Homo sapiens: one gene and its partners. The protein of the gene in region 4 interacts with the protein of the main gene of each other region in a pairwise test. Each region holds a gene or a part of one and is shown on either strand. Other genes may lie near its edges. The genes, in order: ZNF114, QPRT, MAGEL2, SUFU, ZNF763, BRAF and SLC41A3.

Evidence for each region.
Region 1: the proteins of SUFU (region 4) and ZNF114 interact in binary tests that used the Homo sapiens proteins (3 or more experiments, as listed by UniProt).
Region 2: the proteins of SUFU (region 4) and QPRT interact in a two-hybrid assay, tested with the Homo sapiens proteins (one large-scale study listed by BioGRID and IntAct).
Region 3: the proteins of SUFU (region 4) and MAGEL2 interact in binary tests that used the Homo sapiens proteins (3 or more experiments, as listed by UniProt).
Region 5: the proteins of SUFU (region 4) and ZNF763 interact in binary tests that used the Homo sapiens proteins (3 or more experiments, as listed by UniProt).
Region 6: the proteins of SUFU (region 4) and BRAF interact in a protein complementation assay, tested with the Homo sapiens proteins (one large-scale study listed by IntAct).
Region 7: the proteins of SUFU (region 4) and SLC41A3 interact in binary tests that used the Homo sapiens proteins (3 or more experiments, as listed by UniProt).

Annotation. Positions count from the first base shown.
Region 1 is NC_000019.10:48,283,581-48,287,080, forward strand, and holds part of ZNF114 (zinc finger protein 114), read left to right. Parts: intron 1-2,180; coding exon 2,181-3,298; 3' UTR 3,299-3,500. UniProt on the Homo sapiens protein: May be involved in transcriptional regulation.
Region 2 is NC_000016.10:29,685,680-29,689,179, forward strand, and holds part of QPRT (nicotinate-nucleotide pyrophosphorylase [carboxylating]), read left to right. Parts: intron 1-3,500. UniProt on the Homo sapiens protein: Involved in the catabolism of quinolinic acid (QA).
Region 3 is NC_000015.10:23,645,068-23,649,038, reverse strand, and holds the start of MAGEL2 (MAGE-like protein 2), read left to right. Parts: upstream 1-1,171; 5' UTR 1,172-1,296; coding exon 1,297-3,971. UniProt on the Homo sapiens protein: Probably enhances ubiquitin ligase activity of RING-type zinc finger-containing E3 ubiquitin-protein ligases, possibly through recruitment and/or stabilization of the Ubl-conjugating enzyme (E2) at the E3:substrate complex.
Region 4 is NC_000010.11:102,625,972-102,629,471, forward strand, and holds part of SUFU (suppressor of fused homolog), read left to right. Parts: intron 1-1,203; coding exon 1,204-1,272; intron 1,273-3,500. UniProt on the Homo sapiens protein: Negative regulator in the hedgehog/smoothened signaling pathway. Down-regulates GLI1-mediated transactivation of target genes. Down-regulates GLI2-mediated transactivation of target genes. Part of a corepressor complex that acts on DNA-bound GLI1.
Region 5 is NC_000019.10:11,968,040-11,971,539, reverse strand, and holds part of ZNF763 (zinc finger protein 763), read right to left. Parts: intron 1-3,500.
Region 6 is NC_000007.14:140,778,430-140,781,929, forward strand, and holds part of BRAF (serine/threonine-protein kinase B-raf), read right to left. Parts: intron 3,265-3,500; coding exon 3,147-3,264; intron 1-3,146. UniProt on the Homo sapiens protein: Protein kinase involved in the transduction of mitogenic signals from the cell membrane to the nucleus. Phosphorylates MAP2K1, and thereby activates the MAP kinase signal transduction pathway. Phosphorylates PFKFB2.
Region 7 is NC_000003.12:126,070,625-126,074,124, reverse strand, and holds part of SLC41A3 (solute carrier family 41 member 3), read left to right. Parts: intron 1-3,500. UniProt on the Homo sapiens protein: Na(+)/Mg(2+) ion exchanger that acts as a predominant Mg(2+) efflux system at the mitochondrial inner membrane.

The DNA of each region.
Region 1 (3,500 bases), on a different chromosome or scaffold from region 4:
AAGCCAGCAGCATGGTAACAGAGCAACAGGCTCGCCACTGAGACAGCAGGGTTTGCAACAGAGAAAAGAGAAAGTTGCATGATTACATGGTGCCAACCGAGGAGATGGGAGGAGACGCTCAAATTCTTCTCCCTGGGGGGTTCTGGGGTTTTTGTTTTTTTTTTGTTTTTGAGACTGTGTTTCACTCTTGTTGCCCAGGCTGGAGTGCAGTGGCGCGATCTCGGCTCACTGCAACCTCCACCTCCCGGGTTCAAGCAATTCTTCTGCCTCAGCCTCCCGAGTAGCTGGGATTATAGACATGCACCACCATACCTGGCTAATTTTTGTATTTTTAGTAGAGACGGGGTTTCACTGTGTTGGCCAGGCTTGTCTCAAACTCCTGACCTCAAGTGCTCCGCCCACCTCGGCCTCCCAAAGTGTTGGCATTACAGGCATGAGCCACTGCTCTCATTTTTAAGGGGATCATGGAGGATAAGGGACTGGAGAATTGGAGACGTTGATTGGTCAGAGGAAGGGGGATGAAATCATCGGGATGAGGAAAGTACATTCTTTGGTGCGTCAGTTTCTCACGGCATTCCTCAGATCAGTGAGCATAGTCATTTCATCAGAATGCAGGACCTGAAGGAATATCTCAAAGAGAAAACTTAATGTTTTATAATTTTCAAGTTGTTATCTACAGAGCAGCTAAGGAGACCTATAGGCCAGGCACAGTGGCTCACACCTGTAATCCTAGCACTTTGGGAGGCTGAGGCAGGAGGAGGATTACTTGAGGCCAGGAAGTCGAGACCAGCCCAGCCAACATGGCAAAACACTGTTCTTTTTGTCTTTAAAAACAATTTTTTTTTAATTAAAAGGAAAAAAAAAGAAAGAAAAAAACAGGCACTCTGTTGCCCAGGCTGGAGTGCAGTGGCTCAGTCTCAGCTCACTGCAATCTCTGCCTGCCGGATTCAAGTGATTCTCCTGCCTCAGCCCCCTGAGTAGCTGGGATTACAGGCACACGCCACCATGCCCAGCTAATTTTTCTATTTTTAGTAGAGACGGGGCTTCACCACATTGGCCAGGCTGGTCTCAAACGCCTGACCTCTGGTGATCCACCCACTTCAGCCTCTCAAAGTGCTGGGATTACAGGCGTGAGCCACTGTGCCTGTCCAAGCTTATGTTTTTTGACTTTTATCCATCCTCTCATATTTTCATTTTTCCCTGCTAAAGGCCTGTTCCTTTTCTCCTTAAAATTGCACATGGAGCCAGCTACTCGGGAGACTGAGGCAAGAGGATCACTTGATCCCAAGAGCTCAAGGCTGCAGTGTGCTGTGATCACACCTATGAATAGCCAGCCACTGCACTCCAGCACCTGGGCAACCTAGTGACACCCTCATCTCAAAAAAATAAAAATTTCACATGGACTCTCTGTCCAATTCTCTTCCACTTAGAATTCCTGATCGTTTCCTTGATCTCTGCAGAACTGTTCCTCAGTAACATGACACTCTCCATGTTGAACCCCTGACCTTACCGTCATCACATTCCTGACACTGCAGAATCTCTGATGTCTTTCTCTGCTTCCTTCCTCTTGCTTTCTTCCCCTTCACATTTTTATCATACATGTTGAGTGAACATTTAGAAAGAAATCCACACAGAGGCCTGGCGCGTTGGCTCATGCCTGTAATCCCAGCACTTTGGGAGGCTGAGGCAGGTGGATCACATGAGGCCAGGAATTCAAGACCAGCCTGGCCAACATGGTGAAACCCCATCTCAACTGAAAACACAAAAATTAGCCAGGCATGGTGGCACGCACCTGTAATCTCAGCTACTCAGGAAGCTGAGGCCAGAGAATTGCTTGAACCTGGGAGGCGGAGGTTGTAATGAGCCAAGATCATGCCACTGCACTCCAGCCTGGGCCACAGAGTAAGACTCTGTCTAAAGAAAAGAGAGAAAGACAGAGAGAACGAGAGAGAGAGAGAGGAAAGAAGGAAGGAAGGAAGGAGGAAGGAAGGAAGGGAAAGAAAGAGAAAAGAAAGAAAGGAAGGAAGGAAGGAAGAAAGAAAGGATGGAAGGAGCGAGGGAGGGAGGGAAAGAAAGAAAGAAAGAAAGAGAGAAATCCACACGGAGATTGCCTATGTCATCATCTCTAACCCACCTTTACTTTCAACAAAGAATTTAACTTTTGTGCCACTGTATTTCAGATTGGGCAACTCCATGTAAAACCAAAGACGCAACCCCTCAGCCGGATATTCTTCCTAAAAGAACATTTCCTGAAGCCAACAGAGTGTGTCTCACGAGCATCAGTTCCCAGCACTCCACATTAAGAGAAGACTGGAGATGCCCCAAAACAGAGGAACCACACAGGCAGGGGGTGAATAATGTGAAGCCACCTGCAGTTGCCCCTGAGAAAGATGAATCTCCTGTTAGCATTTGTGAAGATCATGAAATGAGGAACCACTCTAAACCTACCTGCAGGCTTGTGCCTTCACAGGGAGATTCCATAAGACAATGTATCCTAACACGTGACTCAAGTATTTTCAAGTATAATCCTGTCTTAAACGATAGTCAAAAAACACATGAAAACAACGAAGACGATGGAGTCTTGGGGTGGAACATTCAGTGGGTTCCGTGTGGGAGAAAAACAGAGCTGAAATCAAGCACATGGACTGGCAGTCAGAACACTGTGCATCATATACGTGATGAAATTGATACGGGGGCCAACAGGCACCAGCGGAATCCATTTGGAAAAGCTTTCCGTGAAGACGGATCCCTTAGGGCACACAACACTCATGGTCGAGAGAAAATGTATGATTTTACTCAGTGCGAGAACACCTCCAGAAATAACTCAATTCACGCCATGCAGATGCAGTTGTATACCGCAGAGACAAACAAGAAGGATTGTCAAACTGGGGCAACCTCTGCCAACGCTCCAAATTCCGGTTCACACAAGAGTCATTGCACTGGAGAGAAAACCCATAAATGCCCCGAATGTGGGAGAGCCTTTTTTTATCAGTCATTCCTTATGAGACATATGAAAATTCACACTGGAGAGAAACCGTATGAATGTGGGAAATGTGGGAAAGCCTTTAGATATTCCTTACACCTTAATAAACATTTAAGAAAGCATGTTGTGCAGAAGAAGCCCTACGAATGTGAAGAATGTGGGAAAGTCATTCGGGAGTCCTCAAAATATACACATATAAGGAGCCACACTGGAGAGAAACCCTATAAATGTAAGACATGTGGAAAAGACTTTGCAAAGTCGTCAGGACTTAAAAAACATCTTAAGACTCACAAAGATGAGAAGCCCTGTGAATGAAAGGAAGGTGGAAAATTTTTCATTAATTTTCTGACTGTACCAAACATGTGAGGAGGACATATTGGAAGGGAGCTCAAGGGGTTAGCATGAGTGAGAACATCTTCCCTGAACTCTCGTATCTTACAGAAATGTGAAAAAAAACCCTGTGAAGGTAAAGTCTACAGAAAGCCTTTCATCTTCATTCATCTTGAGTAGACATTTG
Region 2 (3,500 bases), on a different chromosome or scaffold from region 4:
CATAATCATATCACTCCCTCTTTTAAAATTCTGTGATGGGTCAGGCATGGTGGATCACACTTGTAATCCCAGCACTTTGGGAGGCCGAGGTGGGAGGACTGCTTGAGCCCAGGAGTTCAAGACCAGCCTGGGCAACATAGCGAGACCCCCCGTCTCTACTTAAAAATAATAAAATAAAATGAAAAGAAAATTTTTTTTGAGATGGAGTTTCGCTCTTGTTGCCTAGGCTGGAATACAATGGTGGGATCTCAGCTCACGGCAACCTCCACCTCCCGGGTTCAACCGATTCTCCTGCCTCAGCCTCCTGAGTAGTTGGGATTACAGGCATGTGCCACCATGCCCGGCTAATTTTGTATTTTTAGTAGAGACGGGGTTTCACCATGTTGGTCAGGCTGGACTCGAACTCCTGACCTCAGGTGATCGGCCCACCTCGGCCTCCCAAAGTGCTGGAATTACAGGTGTGAGCCACTGTGTCCGGCCAATAAAATGAAATTTTATGATGGCTTCTGCGATCTGGCCAAATTCCTCAGCTAAATAGTTTAGTTCTTTCTCCCTGTGGCCTCTCCTCCCACCATGTCACCTGTGAATCCCACACTGCCCCCACCCCGACACTGTCTGCAGGTGAACAGATCAGTTTTCTCAGCCCCAAATGTCAGCCCCACCCCACACCTCTGCCTGGCAAACATCACTCACCGGTCCTCAGAGACACCTAGTCATTTATTCCATGAGTCCACCACACTTGAGAAACGCTTCTTTTCTTCGCGAGCACGCCTACCCTGTGCTAGACAGTGTTCCTAAGGGCTTTCAAACATAAAGTCTTTTGTTTTTTGTTTTTGAGACGCAGTCTTGCTCTGTCGCCCAGGCTGGAGTGCGGTGGCACAATCTTGGCTCACTGCAACCTCCGCCTCCCAAGTTCAAGCAATTCTCTGCCTCAGCCTCCCGAGTAGCTGGGATTACAGGCGCTCGGCTTTTTATTTTTTTAATTTTTTTTATTTTTTGTATTTTTAGTAGAGACGGGGTTTCACCATCTTGGCCAGGCTGGTCTTGAACTCCTGACTTCAAGTGGTCCACTTGCCTCGGCCTCCCAAAGTTCTGGGATTATAGGCGTGAGCCACTGTGCCCAGCCTCCAACTCCTGGCCTTGTCTTCCTCCCACCCTGGCTTCCCAGAGTGCTGGGATTAACAGACATGAGCCTCCACACCTGGCAACTTCTTTCCATTTTTCACTGATTCTCTGACACATCCTCATTGAGCACCTGCACTGTGTGGGGTGTTAATAATTGCTAGGCATGGAGGCAACAGCGTGGGCAGCTCTTTCTCTTACTTGTCAGGCTTTAGCCTATGCTGTTGCAGGACTGTGCCTTGGCCTGGAAGCCCCTTCCCTTATCCTCATCCCCAATCTCCCCCTTCAGCTCTTGTTCCTCTTGCAGGTCTTCCCTTAAACATCACTTCCTCAGCAGGGGCCTCACAGACACGCCCGGAGGTTAGATCCTGGTCCCTCTGTGCTTCCTGTTCTTCCCCCATCATCACAGTCTACGGCTGTTTCCTCTCGATGGGCAAAGACTGTGTCTGGCCATTGAGTTTTCTGCTATATCCAAGTGCTTCGTATACTGAACCATATAAATGTGCTGCTTTTATTGGTCAAAACGGCCAAATATTGGCAATTTTATATTGGTTAGCTTCATAGTATGTGAGCTAGGATACTTATCCCATCAGAGAGGTTGCGTAGCACAGTGAATCAGAGCCCAGGCTCTGGGGCCGCACACCTGAGGTCCAGCCCTGGCTCTGCCACTTGTCACTAAGTGATTGTGGACTGGAGACAACCCTCAGGGGCCTTGGGTTCCTAATCTGTGACAGGGATGACAATAATGACCTCCTCGTGCTGTTATAAAATACAGAAATGTACTAAAATACAAAAATTGGCCAGGCATGGTGGCACATGCCTGTAATCCCAGCTACTCAGGAGGCTGAGGCAGGAGAACTCAGGAGGCAGAGGCTGCAGTGAGTCTACTTTTATTGCCAAAGCTCGGGGGTCCATCCCTTTTCCATTGCATGCCACTGCACTCCAGCCTGGGCAACAAAGTGAGACTGTCTCAGAAAAAAGAAAAAGAAAAAAATGTTTAAAAGCCAGGAGTTTGAGACCCTGTCTCTATTAAAAAAAAAAAAAATTACCTTGGCATGGTGGAGCAGCTACTCAGGAGGCTGAGGTGAGAGGACCACATGAGCCCGGGAGTTCAAGGCTGCAGTGAGCCATGATTGCACCACTGCATTCCACTCTGTCTCAAAAAGAAAGAAAGAAAAAAGTCAAGAGAACTGGAGCTGAAACCATGAAAGGTCAGTTTTCAGCAGGAGAGTGATCAAAGAAAACCAGAACTAGACAGTCGTTAAAATAGCAAAAACATATTGCATTCCAGACTATTGCTGTAGGGGAAGAGTGACCTTAGATCAGAACTGGGCTGAACTCTACACCATGGGGGTTATAGCCAACGAGCAGAGTTGGGGGCAGTGGATGGGACATTACCATGAGAAAGCACTGGGGGTTGGGGGTATTCTGACAAGACCAACCTAAAGGGATTCTTGCTGAGGGCAGGCCAAGGTGGTCAGACAGCGCCTGGGGGAGAGTGGAGAATGAGGACCCCCATCAGGGATCGGGGGCAATCAGATGTGGAGGATGAGGGACTGGCTAAGCTGACTTAGCAGTATTCTTGCTAAAATTGGACGATGCAGAGGTGAACACGGAAGTCCAAGGCCTAACTGGAAAAGAGCTGAGGGAACCTGAGTGAGGTTTGGCTATAGACAGAACCTCTGAGTGAGCCCATCAAAGTTACTTTATTTATTTGTTTGTTTATTAATTTATTTAAGACAGAGTCTCACTCTGTCGCCCAGGCTGGAGTACAGTGGTGCTATCTCGGCTCACTGCAAACTCTGCCTCCTAGGTTCAAGCAATTCTCGTGCCTCAGCCTCCCGAGGAGCTGGGATTACAGGCACATGCCACCACACCCAGCTAAGTTTTGTGTTTTTAGTAGGGACAGGGTTTTGCCATGTTGGACAGGCTGGTCTTGAACTCCTGACCTCAGGCTAATTTTTTGTTTGTTTTTATTCTCTTTTTTTTTTTTTTTGAGACTGAGTTTCGCTCTTGTTGGCCAGGCTGGAGTGCAATGGCGCGATATTGACTCACTGCAACCTCTGCCTCCTGGGTTCAAGCGATTCTCCTGCCTCAGCCTCCCGAGTAGCTGGGACTACAGGCGCACACCACCATGCCCGGCTAATTTTTGTATTTTTAGGAGAGACGGGGTTTCATAATATTGGTCAGGCTGGTCTCAAACTCCTGATCTCAGGTGATTCGCCTGCCTCAGCCTCCCAAAGTGCTGGGATTACAGGCGTGAGCCACCGCGCCCAGCCTTTTGTTTGTTTTTAAATTTAACTTTTTTTTTGAGACCGAATTGCACTCTGTCACCCAGGATGGATTGCAATGGCGCAATCTCAGCTCATTGCAACCTC
Region 3 (3,971 bases), on a different chromosome or scaffold from region 4:
TATTTAGTGCTTTGTATATTTCCAGAAAGCTTTTCAATTACTGAGATTATCACTTCCTCTCACCATAAAGTTGTATAGCATTGCCCAATAATACTATTGTCATCTGCTTTATCTGTTAATACTTGATTTGTCTCATATTTAAACTGATTTTTGTCACGAGAAGTTTCCCCAGAAATTTTTTTATTCTTTGCCTGTTTTTCCTATATATCCAAATATATCAATTTTTGATCTATTTATATACCCATTTTGTTATCTTCAGGTGCGTTATTTGGTTTTCATTTTTTAAATTTCTTTCCCATTCTGCAGATGAAAAATACTGAGAAACCTACTCTGTTCCTGCATCCGAGCCATTCCACAGGCAGTTTTCCCATACTAAAAATGCTGTCTTCCACTGATGTGTGGCATGTCTCAGTTCCGTGACTTCTTTTCCTCTCTCTCTACTCGCTGCTGTCCCTTTTCTCCATGTGTCTCTAACATGCCTGTGTTCTTCAAGACCCAGTGCAACCACATTCCCTCCCACAACTCTATTTTCATGAGGAATAGCCAAGCAGGACTCCCAAGACATCATACAGGAGTGCCTACAGGGTATCTCTCCTTGGCAGTCCCACAGCACCGCAAATGCCCTGTGTCTGCCAATACTCATCAGCCTCTCTTCCCGTGTGCCTCTCCTGGGACCCTAAGAGAGTAACAGTCCCTGCAACTTCCCACTTTCTCCAGGCAGGGACTTGTGTGCCTTTTCCATGTCTTTGACTCCTTTATTCAATTATAATACAGGTATCTGTCTGCTATAACTCCTGGAACTCTCTTATGTAAATGCGCTTTTTTCATTCTCCGCCTCACATCTTAGCCCAGACCACACCATCTCCCCCCGCCGTCTTGGATACCTTCCATGTTTCCAGTGGTCTGCTCCCACTCCACACTGCAGTACAGTGATTTTTCTAAAACATGGATGGGTTCCTGTCACTCCCCTGTGAAAAGTCATCCATGTGGAGTCTGACTGGTCTGCATTTGGGGACTGGACAGAGTGAGAAGGGATCCTGTGTCAGCCAGGACTCCGGTAGACGCCCCTATGCAATATCCACTTGTGGTGGTCGGGGGCGGGGAAGGGGCGGGATTGAGCCCCCTTCCCCCCTCCTCCTTACTGCGGAAAGCTGCGGAGCGAGCAGCACTCACTTCCTATTCAGCATTCAGCAGGGAGGGAGCCTCTGAACAGCCACGTAGGCATTCTCTTCTCTCTGGAGGAAAAGGCCCAGCAGCTGTCCGAGGAAAAGACCCACCAGCTGTCAGCAAAGGGACATGTCGCAGCTAAGTAAGAATCTGGGTGACTCGAGTCCTCCGGCGGAGGCCCCGAAGCCGCCTGTCTATAGCCGCCCTACGGTTCTGATGCGGGCCCCGCCCGCTTCCTCCCGGGCTCCGCCAGTCCCTTGGGATCCACCTCCAATTGACTTGCAGGCTTCATTGGCCGCTTGGCAGGCACCTCAGCCTGCCTGGGAGGCCCCACAGGGCCAGCTGCCCGCCCCGGTGGTTCCGATGACCCAGCCTCCTGCCCTAGGGGGCCCGATAGTCCCGGCTCCCCCGCTGGGGGGCCCGATGGGTAAGCCTCCGACTCCCGGGGTCCTGATGGTGCATCCTCCACCTCCGGGAGCCCCGATGGCCCAGCCTCCGACCCCGGGAGTCCTGATGGTGCATCCTTCAGCTCCCGGAGCTCCCATGGCCCATCCTCCTCCTCCGGGGACCCCAATGTCCCACCCTCCCCCTCCGGGGACCCCAATGGCCCATCCTCCTCCTCCGGGGACCCCGATGGCCCATCCTCCTCCTCCGGGGACCCCGATGGTGCATCCTCCTCCTCCGGGGACCCCGATGGCTCATCCTCCCCCTCCGGGGACACCGATGGCTCATCCTCCCCCTCCGGGGACACCGATGGCTCATCCTCCACCTCCGGGGACACCGATGGCTCATCCTCCCCCTCCGGGTACACCGATGGCCCAGCCTCCAGCTCCGGGAGTCCTGATGGCCCAGCCTCTGACTCCGGGAGTCCTGATGGTCCAGCCTGCTGCTCCGGGAGCACCGATGGTCCAGCCGCCTCCAGCAGCCATGATGACCCAGCCTCAGCCTTCAGGAGCACCGATGGCCAAGCCTCCAGGTCCAGGAGTCCTGATGATTCATCCTCCAGGTGCGAGAGCTCCGATGACCCAGCCTCCAGCTTCAGGAGCACCGATGGCACAGCCGGCGGCCCCACCTGCACAGCCGATGGCCCCACCTGCACAGCCGATGGCTTCTTGGGCCCCGCAGGCTCAGCCTCTGATCCTGCAAATCCAGTCTCAAGTTATAAGGGCTCCTCCGCAGGTTCCCCAGGGCCCGCAGGCACCCCCAGCGCAGCTAGCCACACCCCCGGGCTGGCAGGCGACCTCGCCAGGATGGCAGGCCACGCAGCAAGGCTGGCAGGCCACTCCCCTGACTTGGCAGACCACGCAGGTCACCTGGCAGGCACCAGCCGTTACCTGGCAGGTGCCGCCGCCCATGCGCCAGGGGCCCCCGCCCATCCGCCCTGGCCCACCACCCATCCGCCCTGGCCCACCACCGGTGCGACAGGCCCCACCGCTGATCCGCCAGGCCCCACCGGTGATCCGCCAGGCCCCACCCGTGATCCGCCAGGCCCCACCCGTGATCCGCCAGGCCCCCGCTGTGATCCGCCAGGCCCCACCTGTGATCCGCCAGGCCCCACCTGTGATCCGCCAGGCTCCACCTGTGATCCGCCAGGCCCCGCCGCTGATCCGCCAGGCGCCGCCGCCCATCCGACCTGCCCCACAGGTCCTGGCCACCCAGCCACCGCTCTGGCAGGCCCTGCCACCCCCACCTCCACTGCGGCAGGCCCCGCAGGCTAGGCTGCCGGCCCCGCAGGTGCAGGCGGCGCCGCAGGTGCCTACGGCCCCACCTGCTACGCAGGTACCCGCGGCGCCGCCCGCTGGCCCGCAGGTGCCCCAGCCTGTGCTGCCGGCCCCGCTGTCTGCCCCACTGTCTGCCCCGCAGGCTGTGCACTGCCCTTCCATCATCTGGCAGGCCCCCAAAGGTCAGCCCCCGGTGCCACACGAGATTCCAACGTCAATGGAATTCCAGGAGGTGCAGCAGACACAGGCGCTGGCCTGGCAGGCCCAGAAGGCCCCCACTCACATCTGGCAGCCCCTGCCTGCCCAGGAGGCCCAGAGGCAGGCTCCCCCCTTGGTCCAGCTGGAGCAGCCCTTTCAGGGAGCCCCGCCCTCCCAAAAAGCCGTGCAAATCCAGCTACCCCCCCAGCAGGCCCAGGCATCGGGTCCGCAAGCGGAGGTGCCCACACTGCCGCTCCAGCCTTCCTGGCAGGCACCGCCTGCAGTCTTGCAGGCCCAGCCCGGACCCCCGGTAGCAGCGGCAAATTTTCCCCTGGGCTCCGCTAAATCATTGATGACTCCATCAGGAGAATGCAGGGCCTCTTCTATAGACCGCAGGGGCTCCTCTAAAGAGCGCAGGACCTCCTCGAAGGAGCGCAGGGCCCCTTCAAAAGACCGCATGATCTTTGCTGCCACCTTCTGTGCTCCCAAGGCAGTGTCAGCTGCGCGAGCACACCTGCCAGCTGCCTGGAAAAACCTGCCTGCCACACCGGAGACCTTTGCTCCCTCCTCAAGTGTCTTCCCAGCTACCTCCCAGTTTCAGCCTGCCTCTCTGAATGCCTTTAAAGGCCCCTCTGCTGCCTCAGAGACCCCAAAGTCACTGCCATATGCTCTGCAGGATCCCTTTGCCTGTGTAGAGGCCCTGCCTGCAGTTCCATGGGTCCCACAGCCCAATATGAATGCCTCAAAGGCATCGCAGGCAGTGCCCACCTTCCTGATGGCTACAGCAGCTGCCCCCCAGGCAACTGCCACCACTCAAGAGGCCTCCAAGACCTCCGTCGAGCCGCCACGCCGCTCCGGCAAGGCCACCCGGAAGAAGAAGCATCT
Region 4 (3,500 bases):
ACAGGGAGGGTTTCCCCTCAGAGGAGCCCCTCACCTGGATCTTCACCCCATTATCTTTCTTCCTTTGTGCCCTACCTGGGTGCTCAAGGTGTACGGGAGAAGACAGGTAGAGCTGTGGCCTGGGGGTACAGAAGGGTCTGCAGTGGAGGGAGGCTGGGAGGCCCTGGGGACAAGGACAGGGAGGGGGAGGGGTGAAGGAAGGGGTCACAGTTGGAAGAGGAAAGACACCCTCACCCAGGGCGTGGTGGGGTGCAGACCTGGGATCAGCTTGGCCTGGCTCTGCCTAGCAGCCTGACGAGAGGGGTGGGTGGGGAAGAATGGCCCAGCAGATTGAGGAAGGCCGGTTTTAGAGGGCCTGAGAGCCCTTGGACGTTGGTATTGGCTGTGAAAACTTCTTTAGCGGATGAAGTTGGTGTTTGTGCCAGCCAAATAGTGGGGCCAGACTCAGCATCAAAGCGAGAGGCAATGAGGTGTCAGACTAGAACAGCAACGTGGAATGCTGGGAGGTGACCTAGAGAAGAGGAACCTCAAAGAAGGCTGGAGGAACTCAGTGGCTGATCGAGCACAGCAGGTCAGGGGCTTGGGAGCTTCCAGCCTGGGAGGATGTGGCTACTGTGAATGGGAATGGAAGTTGGGAGTCCCTTTGTCATCTGTAAAATGAGACGTTGGTCCACAATCTCCAGATTCTCCAGCTCAGACATTCTTGGATGTACCTTCCAGGGCACTTCCAGATTCCAGATAGGGCTTGTATTCCAAATCCAAACAGTTTCCTTTTGTCCTTCTACGGTGAGGGGCAGAGGGGGACACTAGAGCCTGACTGGGCAGCAGCTTTAATTTAATTTTTTTTCCTTTTAATTTTTCTTTTCTGTTCCTTTTTCTTCCTGAGATTCCTTTTTACCGGCCCCACCAGTGTTCATCTCCCTTCTGGGAGCAGCATTCCCAGCTCTCCCAGTGTCCTCCCTCCCCTCCCCATTGTCCCCTGACCCCTTTCCTTCTATGCCTCAGTCTGATATTGCAGGGAGGTGAGGGTGTGGGGGGAATGACAGCTGGGGACAGGCCTCAAACACTTCCCTGTGTCCCTTGAACAGATCACAGTGAGCTCATCTCTCCTCCATGGTCAGAAGAGAGGTATAACGCTTGGTGGTTGGCAAAAAGATCATACATTTAAAAATAATAATAAAAGCCTGCCTTGTGCCTTCACAGATTCTGTTGACCGAAGAGTTTGTAGAGAAAATGTTGGAGGATTTAGAAGATTTGACTTCTCCAGAGGAAGTAAGCTTGTTTGACTTTTCCTGACAACAGGTCCCGTCTCTGGGACCATGTGTGTGCGTGCGTGTGCACGTCTGTGCATGCATGTGTGCGTGTGTACCTGTGGTGCGTGTGTGCTTGCATGTATCTGTGTGGCTGCATCTGTGGGCTCCTCCCCAAGGTGCAGGGATAGGCTGGAGAGGAGACTGTAGATTTCTCTTCTGTTTCTATGCACCCTCACCATCCCCTGCCCTACCCCCAGCCCTTGTAAGGACACCCAGCAAATCGTCTGAATTGCCAGCTCCTGAGAGCCTCATTGAAGAGGAAGCCAGGGCCTTCAGGCTAGTACGAGTTCTCCCCAGCCCCTGCTGTTCCCTGGCAGATTCTGAACAGAACGCCCATGTCTGTTGCCAGAGAACATTCCGCTGGGGAGTTCTGGTGGGCAGCAAGGGACTCCTGCTCTCGCCTCGGGCCACCCAGGAGCCACTCTCCCTTCTTCGTCCTCCAGCCATGAGCTGTGCCTCTTAGTCTCCCTCTTCCAGCCCTGGCTCAGAGCTGGAGGAGCTGGCAGGCCAGCTGTGGCTGTGCCTTCTTTAGCTGCTCCTCTGGGGTAGAGGAATGGAGTCCATAATCCCCTTTGTTTTTTCTCCCTTGTTCCCGGCATCCTTATTTGCGAGGGCTTACCTCATCCTGGAAAATCCCTTCCCCTCCCCCGCTCCTGCCCGCAGCACCCCAGTGGGATGGGAGCTTTCCTGGCCCCAGTGCCCCATGGGTTAGTGAACTCTAGCAGGCTGGCCGGGCCTCTGGAGAGCTCTCCTGGGCCCTGCCCTGCCTGTGGCAGAGGCAGACCCTTCCCTTGTCCTGTCTGCCAGGAAATGTGCTTGGGGGAGAACTCCTTCGCCTCCCAGGGGCCAGGCTTTCTACCAAGAGGGAGGCCAGGCGGGAGCTAGGTTCCAGCCAGGGCTGGAGCTTCCAGCTTCCAGGGCTCCCTGGGCTGCAACAGCCAGGACACAGGCCTCTGGTGTTTAGGAAGCTGAGGGGAGTGCACAGGGCGGGACCGTCCAGTCCAGGTCTCCAGTTGGACAGGAACTCCCCAGAGCCAGGGTCACCTCAATAGAGCAGGGTCTCCTCTGTCCTCTGGGATGCAGCTTGAGAAATTTGTTCATTTATATATTCCAAAGCCATCAAGCACCCAGTCCATGCCAGCCAATCAACCCCCACAAGTCACTGGTCCCTGAGTCCCAGCTCCCCATTCAGTCAGACCAGAGCCAGCTGCCCAGAAGCGCTTCCGGAGAGGCCTTGTCGCACTGGGATGGCGCTGTGCCAGGCTGCTGCTTTGAGCTTGGGGGTAGGAGGGGGACAGTCCAGGCAAGAGGGACAGAAGCCTGGGGGAGCAGAGGAAAGTAGGTCACTAAAAATGACTTTTTTCTTTTTTTCCTTTTCTGTCCAGAGGCTGTCCCTACACCCTGCCTCACTCGCCACTTTGGTCCTGGCAGAGACAGTCCCCCAGCAGAGGGAGCGAAGAGGGAGGCAGCCAGGAAGGGTCAGGCTCGTCTGCCTCCAGCCCCAGACCGAGGCAGGCTGAGAACACTGTTCTCTCCTTTCCACCCTGCCCTGACTTCCGGCCTAGCCAAATTAGAAAAGACAGACCCTGGGCCGGGCGCAGTGACTCATGTCTGTAATCCCAGCACTTTGGGAGGCCGAGGCAGGTGGATCACCTGAGGTCGGGAATTTGAGACCAGCCTGACCAACATGGAGAAAACCCATCTCTACTAATAATACAATAATTAGCCGGGCTTGGTGGTGCATGCCTGTAATCTCAGCTACTCGGGAGGCTGAGGCACGAGAATCGCTTGAACCCGGGAAGCAAAAGTTGCAGTGAGCCGAGATCGCGCCATTGCACTCCAGCCTGGGCAACAAGAGCGAAACTCCGTCTCAAAAGAAAAAGAAAAGACAGACCCTGTGTCTAAGTTCCGGTATCAGTCCCAGGCAGTGAGCATTTATTGAGCTCCATCTGTGTGCCAGACTGCATGCAAAGTTCTACAGTAAAGAGGGAATAAGAGGCATCAGCCTCTTCCCCTTCCCCTACCAGAAACTCCCAGGTGAATGGGAGAAACAGAACTGTAGGCAAATCAGTGTATCCTGGGATGGGGTGGGAGACATTTGGCTCTCCTTGGCCACCACTGGGACCACTCTGAGGCTGGTAACCCTGGGAAGTGGTGCGAATGAATACAGGGAGCAGGGTGGGGATT
Region 5 (3,500 bases), on a different chromosome or scaffold from region 4:
AAGAAAAAAGTACTTCTAAAAACTGAAATAGAAGACAATGACTAAGAACAGCCAAGATGCTCTATAGAATATGGTTGGAGGGTGTTACGGCATGAATATTTGCATCACTCTAAAAAAATCACACATTAATAACCTACCCCCCACTATAGTATTAGAAGTTGACATCTCTGGGAATTAATTAGGATTAGATGAGAGCATAAAGGTAGATGCTTTCCGAATGAGATTAGTGCTCTTATAGGAAGACACAGGACAGCCAGCTTCCTCTCTTTTCTGTCATGTGAAGAAACCACAAGATGACCATCTGCAAACCAGGAAGCGGGCCATTACCAGACACTAGATCTGCCAACTCCCTGAACATGGACTTCACAACCTCAAGAACTGTCAGAAACAAATGTTTATTCTTTAAGTTACCCAGTCTATGGTAATTTGATGTAGCAGCCCAAGATGACTAAGATAGAGAAGCAATATCCCTACTATACACTGCAGCTTTGAACTCTACACTAATTAAGAGAAAATGGTATTAACAGAGAGATGGAAGGACAGACCAATGGAAAACAGCAAATTGTGAGACCAGGGCATCTAGTTTTTTAGTTTTTTTTTTATTTTTTGAAATGAGGTTTCACTCTCCTTGCCCAGGCTGGAGGGCAAAGGCGGGATCTCGGCTCACTGCAACCTCCACCTCCCAGGTTCAAGCGATTCTCCTGCCTCAGCCTCCCAGGTAGCTAGGATTATAGCCATGCGCTGCCATGCTCAGCTAATGCTGTATTTTCAGTACAGATGGGGTTTCACTATATTGGTCAGGCTGGTCTCAAACTCCTGACCTTAGGTGATCTGCCAGCCTCAGCCTCCCAAAGTGTGTGAGCCACTGCACCTGCTCTGGACATCTATTTAAGGTAATATGAAACTATGACAAACCAGGTATTGCCAGCCAATGATACAAGTGGTGAACACTTAACAGAAAAAGCAGGGACAAATGGTTATCTACAGGAGAATAATCAATCTACTACTCATCATCTCCATATACAATAATTTAATTAATTCTAGAGTTACCTGTTACAGTGAATTCTTTTATTTATATGTTACCTTAGCATGCATTTTCTTTATGGATTTAACGTTGTTATAACAGAAGAAAACTTTACTCAAACTCTGAACAGTTTCTGGTTCTCCACCTCCTCCCAGTTCCTCCATGTGGTTAACTCACATATGGGACTTACTCAGCTGCATTCTGGTGACCACCTCCCTGTGGGACAGCTAAATACATCCTTGTTGGAGTGGCCTTTCCTTGTCTTTTGGGATATTTCTCTCTTCACAGTTGAGACAATCCAGAGGACAGGAATCATCTCTGTTTTTCCTCATTAGCAACATCCGATTGGCAGAACAGCCATGTGTCTCCAATTAATGGAAAGTGGAGTTGGGAGACAGAAGCTGAGCACCCCAAGAATTGGTTATGTAGATGAAGAGTATACCAGGCATCTCCTCCACCATAAGGCATTCAGCTGCTCCCTCGGGAGGTCCCACTCCCCTAAGGCACTAATACCCATGAGACCCTCCAGGAGACATGGCAGTTGTGGGGATCTTGAGCCAGCCCCAGGCAATTCTAAAACCCAAAACCAGGAAAAGATAGGAGGGTGTACTGAAGACACATCACCCTGTAAAGTTTCCAGAAAGGAACCTCATCCCAAAGACATCCTGATAAGGTGTCTGTGTCTAGGAAAGATAAAAGGAGGAGAGGCAGAAAGGATTTTTCAGGCAAATGTCTAGTGGTTATTCTCTGCTTTCCTCTCATGTGAAATGTTCAGAAACAGATTTCACTGCAAGCCCTTGAAGAGTTAGGCTGTGGTATGAGGGTGGAGGATTTGAGACGCTGCATCCCATATATTTGGAAAATGTAAGGGGAAACCAGTTGCCCTGGAGAATGTGAAAAAATTTAAATAAGAAGCAATGAGGCCAAACTGTGTGAGGTGTCCTAAGGTCCTACCTAAGGATCCTGAAATCATATTTAAATACAACTCGTGAAAATTACTAATGTATAGGGAAATGAAATTTATGCTTAATCAGGCACAATCCACCAATTAACCGCTGATTACATAACTAGAAATTTTCTACCTATATAGGCTGTGTGAACAAGTAAGTCAGGCCCGGTGCAGTGACTCCCACCTGTAATCCCACCACTTTGGGAGGCCAAGGTGGATGGACCACTTGAGGACAGAAGTTCAAGACCAGCCTGGCGAACGTGATAAAACGCTGTCTTTACTAAAAATAGAAAAATTAGCCGAGTGTGGTGGCACGCACCTGTAATCCCAGCTACTGGAAAGGCTGAGGCCAGAGAATTACTTGAACCCAGAAGGCAGAGGCTGCAGTGAGCTGAGATCACGCCGCTGCACTCCAGCCTAGCCGACAGAGTGAGACCCTGTCTCAAAACAAACAAACAAGCAAAAACAACCAAGTAATTCAAAAATTTAAGCTGATGAATCTCTACATCATCTTGAAGCAATGTGATCATGGGGTTGAGTCACATGACACACAACTTTCACCTAGCTAGCTGGAACCCTCCTTTCCCTGATTACAGATTTGCCTTCTTTCTTACCTATAGTGTTTTGTAAAATGTTGTAAATGACTGAAGGGAAACAGGAAAGACCCTTTCCCTTGTCACTGTCTTTTTAAATTTAATATGATTTTTCACAATTGAGATGGGGTCTCACTATGTTGCCAGGCTGGTCTTCAACTCCTGAGATCAAGCCATCCACCTGCCTCGGCCTCCCAACGTGCTGGGGTTACAGGTGTGAGCCATCCCGCCAGGCCCCTCTCTACTACTGATCTCTATAGTACACTAATTTCCCTCTTAACTTTCTCACACAAAGACTCCATGGCTATCATGTTGTCTTCAGCTAGAATATTAAATTCACTTTTTTAAATTGAAAAGGAAATATAAACCAGCTAGAAAGAAAAGAAAACAAGCTCTGGGGGAAAAAAGCAAACCACTACAAATTAAGTTGTTATCCACATGCATTTGCTCATGTCTATAATCCCAGCACTTTTGGAGGCCAAGGAAGGAGGACTGTTTGAGGCCAGGAGCAAGAGACCAGCCTGAGCAACATATCGAGACCCCACCTCTGTAAAATACAAAAAATTAGCCAGGTGTGCTGGTGGGCAACTGTACTCTCAGCTACTGGGAAGGCTGAGGTGCTTGAGCTGGGGAGGTCAAGGCTGCAGTAAGCCATGATCGCACCACTGCTCCAGCCTGGGCCACAGAGCTAGACATTGTCTCAAAGAAAAAAAAAAATTAAATTATTGTACCTCATACATCAGCCTTCTATGGAAAATGTAATCCTGTTACATTTATTTGCCTTTTGCCTATATAAGTGTTAGGGAAGCAAGTGCCTAGGGGAGCCAGAGAAAGACCAATCAGCTCCATCTTGAGACTAACAAGAAACACTCCTTGCCAGTCACAACCCATGGTCATAACATGTTTGACATTAAGAAAACAGCCTGAAGATGCC
Region 6 (3,500 bases), on a different chromosome or scaffold from region 4:
GTAATGTTGAAACTACAATTACCAGGCCCTATGGAATTTTGCTTAAAAGTAGGAAACTATAAAACTTTTTTATCAGAGTAGTTAACATTTTTTTCAAATTTATGGATTACTTATGATACTTTCAATTAGGAAAATGACTAAAACTGTCACTAAAATTTAAAAAAAACTTCATGTGAGTTAATGGGTGCAGCACACCAGCATGGCACATGTATATATATGTAACTAACCTGCACACTTTGCACATGTACCCTAAAACTTAAAAGTATAATAATAATAAAAAAAGAAAATGATATTTTATTAAAATCATCAAAAAAAAAAAACTTTATGTGAAACAGCTGTAACGTCAACACTGCCAGTAGGTGTTTAAATTGGTACAACTACTTTGTAACATTGTTGGCAGCATTACTAAAACTGGACATATGCATACCCTGTGGTCTCACAATTCTGTCCTAGGTATATATACCCATCAATGGTTACATGTTCACCAAAAGACATACACTAAAAATGTTTACAGCACCAGCATCAATCAAAGCCCCAAACTGGAAACGATCCAATTGCAACAGATGAAAGAAGAAATCATGTTATAGTCACACAATGAAATACTGTAAAGAGAATGAATGACCTCCAACTTCACACAACAATATAGATGAATCTTATAAACAATGTTGAGTGAAAAGGGCCGACACAAAAGAGTACACACTATGCACTTCCTGTTGTAATCACAGTGGTGGTTACCCTTGGGAGAGAGGTGATTGGCTAGAAGAGGACATGGGAGGGTGTTTCTAGAGTGCTAGTAATGTTCTGTTTATTTAATTTTTTTAGAGACAGAGTCTTGCTCTGTCACCTAGGCTGGATGGAGTGCAGTGGTGTGATCATGGCTCACTGCAGCCTTGAACTCCTGGGCTCAAGCCATTCTCCCACCTCAGCCTCCTCAATAGCTGGGAGTACAGGCACATGCCACCATGCCTGGCTAATTTATGTGCACTTTTATACACAGGCTGAGTATCCCTTATCCAAAATGCCTGGGACCAGAAGTGTCTCAAATTTCAAATTTTTTCTGATTTTGGAATATTTTGATTATACTTACCAGTTTAACATCCCTAATCCAAACATATGAAATCCTCCAATAAGCATTTCCTTTGAGCATCATGTCAGCACTCAGAAAGTTTTGGATTTTGGAGCATTTCGGGTTTGGGATTTTGGATTAAAGATACCCAACCTGGCCAGGTGTGCTGCCTCACACCTGTAATCCCAGCACTTTGGAAGGCCAAGGTGGGTGGCTCACCTGAGGTCAGGAGTTTGAGAACAGCCTGGCCAACATGGCAAAACTCGTCTCTACTCAAAATACAAAAATTAGCCAGGGGTGGTGGTACGCGCCTATAATCCTAGCTACTCAGGAGGCTGAGGTAGGAGAACTGCTTGAATCTGGGAGGCAGAGGTTGTAGTGAGTTGAGATTGTGCCACTGCACTCCAGCCTGGGCGACAGAGCGAGACCTTGTCTCAAAACAAAACAAAACAAACAAAAATAAATAAATAAAGATACTCAACCTGTATGTATATTTTAATAAGTTAAATCAACATTGATTTTCCTCAATTATCAAAGTAATACAGTGCTTATTCTACTGTTTGTATCATAAAATACTGTACAGCACTTAAGAAAAGTTTAAAGACATTTTGAAGGTATAAAAAAATTCCCTTAATTATGTCACTCAAAAGTGACATTATATGTTATTAGGCTTTTACATGAATTTAGTGTGAATATTTATGAACACCTGTGAAAAGATAGATTAAGGAGATAAAAACTAAAACACAGTCTTTTTTTTTTTTTTTTTTAAGACAGTCTCGCTGTTATCCAGGTTGGAGTGCAATGGCGGGATCTCGGCTCACTGCAACCTCCACCTCCTAGGTTCAAGCAATTCTCCTGCCTCAGCCTCCTGAGTAGCTGAGATTACAGGCGCCCACCACCAAGCCTGGCTAATTTTTTGTATTTTTAGTAGAGATGAGGTTTCACTATGTTGGCCAAGCTGGTCTCGAACTCCTGACCTTGGGTGATCCACCTGCCTCGGCCTCCCAAAGTGCTGGGATTACAGGCGTGAGCCACTGTGCCTGGCCTAAAATACTGTCATATAAAAAATTATGTTATATATTTCTATGAGCTCCATAATATGGTATCTTACACATACTGCTTTGAAAAATTTCATATACCAAAGACACCTTTCTACATCAATAAATGTACCTCTACCATGCCATTTTAACTCCTATATAATCACATATGATGGTATAAATTTATCCAATTCTCTATTAGTTGGATACATGTTCACTTTCACTTTTCATTGATATTAAACCTTTGATGAAAATACATCCACTACTCTTAATATAATCCAATTTAAAAAGATTTTGTCCAACTAAGAGGCAAATAATGATGTCTATTTTTTGAATTTGCAATTCTTTGATAACTAGTAAGGCTGAACATTTTGTATATGTTTACTGGCCACTTATATTTCTTTGTTAATTTTTTTTTTTTGAGACGGAGTCTCACTGTCACCAGGGTGGAGTGCAGTGGCGTAATCTCAGCTCACTGCAACCTCCGCCTCCTGGGTTCCAGTGATTCTCCTGCCTCAGCCTCCCAAGTAGCTGGGACTACAGGCACGTGCTTCCACACCCAGCTAATTTTTGTATTTTTAGTAGAGATGGGGTTTCACCATGTTGGCCAGTATGGTCTTGATCTCCTGACCTCGTGATCAGCCAGCCTCAGCTTCCCAAAGTGCTGGGATTACAGGCATAAGCCACTGCGCCCAGCCATTAAGTACATTTTTAATATGTTTACTTGTGACTTATAATACAAATAAAATTATCAGCTGAAAGACTCTAAAAGAAAATAAAATCCTTTTGAGGACTAGTTAACCTGGAGGAATTCCCCTTTAAAAATTATTACTGTAATAAAATGGTAGGAGTCCCGACTGCTGTGAACAGTTTTTATTTCCCATAATTTTTGTTAGAAACTTTTGGAGGAGTCCTGAAACTAATCAAAATAGTTTATTGATGCGAACAGTGAATATTTCCTTTGATGATATTTTTTACAAAATAAAAGTTGTTAAACATATCCTATTATGACTTGTCACAATGTCACCACATTACATACTTACCATGCCACTTTCCCTTGTAGACTGTTCCAAATGATCCAGATCCAATTCTTTGTCCCACTGTAATCTGCCCATCAGGAATCTCCCAATCATCACTCGAGTCCCGTCTACCAAGTGTTTTCTTGATAAAAACAGTAAAAAAGTCAAGTCAAGCCAAACAGAAAAAGAAAACCTTATGTTTCACCCTAAGTACATTACCTTATGCCTGAGAGGGATACAGGAAGAGATCCCCTTAAGAAAAATTCTCTGGAAGAATAGTAGTTAAAAGTATGACTCTTAAAATACAAAACTTAAATTTAAGACTGAAGTCAATATTAGGATGGAAAAAATTTATTTTTATTTTTTATTTTATTATAC
Region 7 (3,500 bases), on a different chromosome or scaffold from region 4:
TAGTTGTTGCCAAATGCTTTTTCTGTGTCTGTTGAGCTATGTTTTCTCCCCATTATTCTATTAATTTGGTGTATTACATTGATTTTCATATATTGAACCAACTTTGCATTCCTGAAATAAATCCCACTTGGTTATATTGTAAAAGTCTTTGTATGTACTAGTGGCTTGAGTTTATTAGTATTCTGCTGAGGATTTTGTGTCTGTATTCATAACACACATTGGTCTGTAGCTTTCTTGGGTTGTCTTTACACTGGTCTCATACAAGCGGTTGGGAAGTGTTCCCTTCTCCAATTTGTTGTTGAGAGTTTATGAAGGATTTGTGTTATTTTTTTTTAAATGCTTGGTAGACTTCTCTAGTGAAGCCATCTGGTGTTAAGCTTTTCTTTGTGGGAAGTTTTTTGATTACTAATTCAATCTCTTTATCTGTAGATCTATTAATATTTTTTATTTCTTCACGAGTCAGTATTACTAGTTTGTGTTTCTAGGAATTTGTACATTTCATCTAGGTTTTCTAATTTTTTTAGCTTTATTTATTTTTTAACGTTTAGGTTCAGGGGTACATGTGCAGGTTTGTTATAAATTAGGTATCATGGGGGTTTGGTGTACAGATGATTTTGTCACCCAGGTAATAAACATAGTACCTAATAAGTAGTTTTTTGGATTTTGTTTGTTTGTTTTTGTTTTTTTTCTGAGACAGGGTCTTGTTCTGCCACCCAGGCTGGAGTGCAGTGGTGCAATCTCGGCTCACTGCAACCTCCGCCTCCCACGCTCAAGCGCCACCTGCCTCAGCCTCCTGAGTAGCTGGGACTACAGGTACACTCCACCATGACTGGCTAATTTTTGTATTTTTTGTAGAGGGTTTCACCATCTTGCCTAAGCTGGTCTTCAACTCCTGAGCTCAAGCAATCTGCTTGCCTCGGCCTCCCAAAGTGCTGGGATTACAGGCATGAGCCACTGCATCTGGCCAGATAGGTAGTTTTTTTGATCCTCTTTCTCCTCTCACCCTCTGTTCTCAAGTAGGCCCTGGTGTCTGTTGTTCCCTTCTTTATATGCATGTGTACCCAATGTTTGGCTCTCACTTATAAGTGAAACATGGTATTGGGTTTCTGTTTCTGCATTAGGTTGTTTAGGATTATGGCCTCCAGTTCCATCCATGTTGCTGCAGATGACATGATCTTGTTTTTTCATGGCTGCATAGTGTTCCATGGGCATATGTACTACATATTCTTTATTCAGTCTTCTGTTGACAGGCATTAGGCTGATTTTGTGTCTTTGCTATTGTGAATAGTGCTGCGATGAACATACCTGTGCGTGTGTCTTTATGGTAGAATGATGTATATTTCTTTGGGTATACACCCAATAATGGGATTGCTGGGTTGAATGGTACTTCTGTTTTAAGTTCTTTGAGAAATCACCTCCACTGCTTTCCACAATGGCTGAACTAATTTACATTCCCACAAGCAGTGTATAAGCATTCCCTTTTGTCTACAACCTCACCAGCATCTGTTATTTTTTGACTTTTTAATAATAGCCATTCTGACTGGTGGCTTTTCCAATTTGTTGGCTTACAGTTAATCATATATTCTCTTATAGTTATGTTTAGTTTTGGTTGTAATGTTTCCTCTTTCATTCCTAATTTAACTATTTGAGTCTTCTGTCTTTTTTTCTTCATCAGTCTACATAAAGGATTGTCAGTTTTGTCGATCTCTTCAAGGACCCAACTTTTGGTTTTGCTGGCCTTTTTTTTTTTTTATTTTTTTTTACAATTCTCTTTCATTTATTACCAGTCTAATCTATATTAATTCCTGCCTTCTACTTTTTTGGGTTTAGTTTGCTCCTCTTTATCTTAAGGTGGAAAATTGATTTATTAATTTGTTCATTTCTTTTTAAAGAAATTGATAGTTATAGCTATAAACTTCCCTCTAAGCACTACATTAACACATGCCATGATTTTTTGGCATGTTGTATTTTCATTTTCATTCATCTCAAAGAAATTTCTAATTTATCTTGTGATTTTTGTCTTTGACCCATTACTTATTTAAGAGTATGGGCTGGGGCATGGTGGCTCATGCCTGTAATCCTAGCACTTTGGGAGGCCGAGGTGAGCAGATCACTTGAGCTCAGGAGTTTGAGACCAGCCTGAGCAACACAGTGATATCCCATCTCTACAAAACTTTAAAAAATAATTTAGCTGGGCATGGTGGCACACACCTGTAGTCCCAGCTACTTGGGGGGCTGAGAAGGGAGGATTACATGAGCCCCAGAGGTCTAAGCTGCAGTGAGCTGTGATCATGCCATTGCACTCCAGCCTGGGTGCCAGAATAAGACCCTATCTCAAAAAAAAAAAAAAAAGTTGTTTAATTTCCGCATATTTATAAATTTCCTAAATGTCCTTCTGTTATTGATTTCTAATTTTATTTTGTTGTGGTTGGAAAACATATTTTGTATGATTTCAGTCTTAAATTATTGAAGTTATTTTTCCTAAGATAGATCAAGCCTGCAAAATGTTCCATGTGCACTTGATAAGATTGAGTATTCTGCTATTGTTGCGCGGAGTGTTTTGTATAGATGTGTTTGATCTAATTGGTTTATAATGTTGTTGAAGTCCTCTTTCTTTTGTTGAAATTCTGTCAAATTGTATTATCAATTGTTGGAAGTGAGGTATGTCCAACTATTATTATTGAATTGTCTTTTTCTTCCTTCAGTTCTGCCACTTTTATGTATTTGGGGGCTTTGTTGTTAGGCATATGTACGTTTGTAATTGTTATAGCTTCTTGATAGATTGACCCTTTTATCATTATCAAATATCCTTCTTTGTCTGTAGTAAGAATTCTTGTTTTTATGTCTGTTTTGCCTGATATTATTAATAGTATTAAAGCCACTCCAGTTATCTTTTGGTTATTGTTTGCATGGTATATTTATTTAAATCCTTTTACTTCCAACCTATCCATTTATACTTAATGTAATAATTGATAAGATGGGATTTATGTCTGCCATTTTGCTATTTGTTTTCTGTCTGTCTAATGTCTTTTTTCCCTGTTTCCCCATTACTGCATTGTTTTGTACTAAGTAGATCTTTCCTAGTGTATCACTTTTATTCACTTGTTATTTCTTTTATATTTTTTTTTCTTAGCAGTTGCCCTGAGGATTACAATCAGCACCTTGGTTTATAATAATCGTGTTTGGATCAATAACAACTTAATTCCAACTTGATTTATGTGGTTGTCTTTAAATTGGATAAGAGTAAAAAGAGTTACTAACAAAAATGTGTTTATACTTAAAAAAAAAAATCTGTCTAGGTGGTTACCTTTGCCGATGCTCTTCCTTCCTCTGTGTGGATTCTAGCTAGTGTCTAGGATCCTAATTCGGCCTTAAAGACTCCCTTTCGTGTTTCCTTTAGGGCAGGTGTGCTGGGGACGAATGCTCTGTGTCTGTTTATCTGAAAATCTCTTAATTTCTCCTTTACTTTGAAAAGATAATTTTGCTAGTTAAGAATTCTT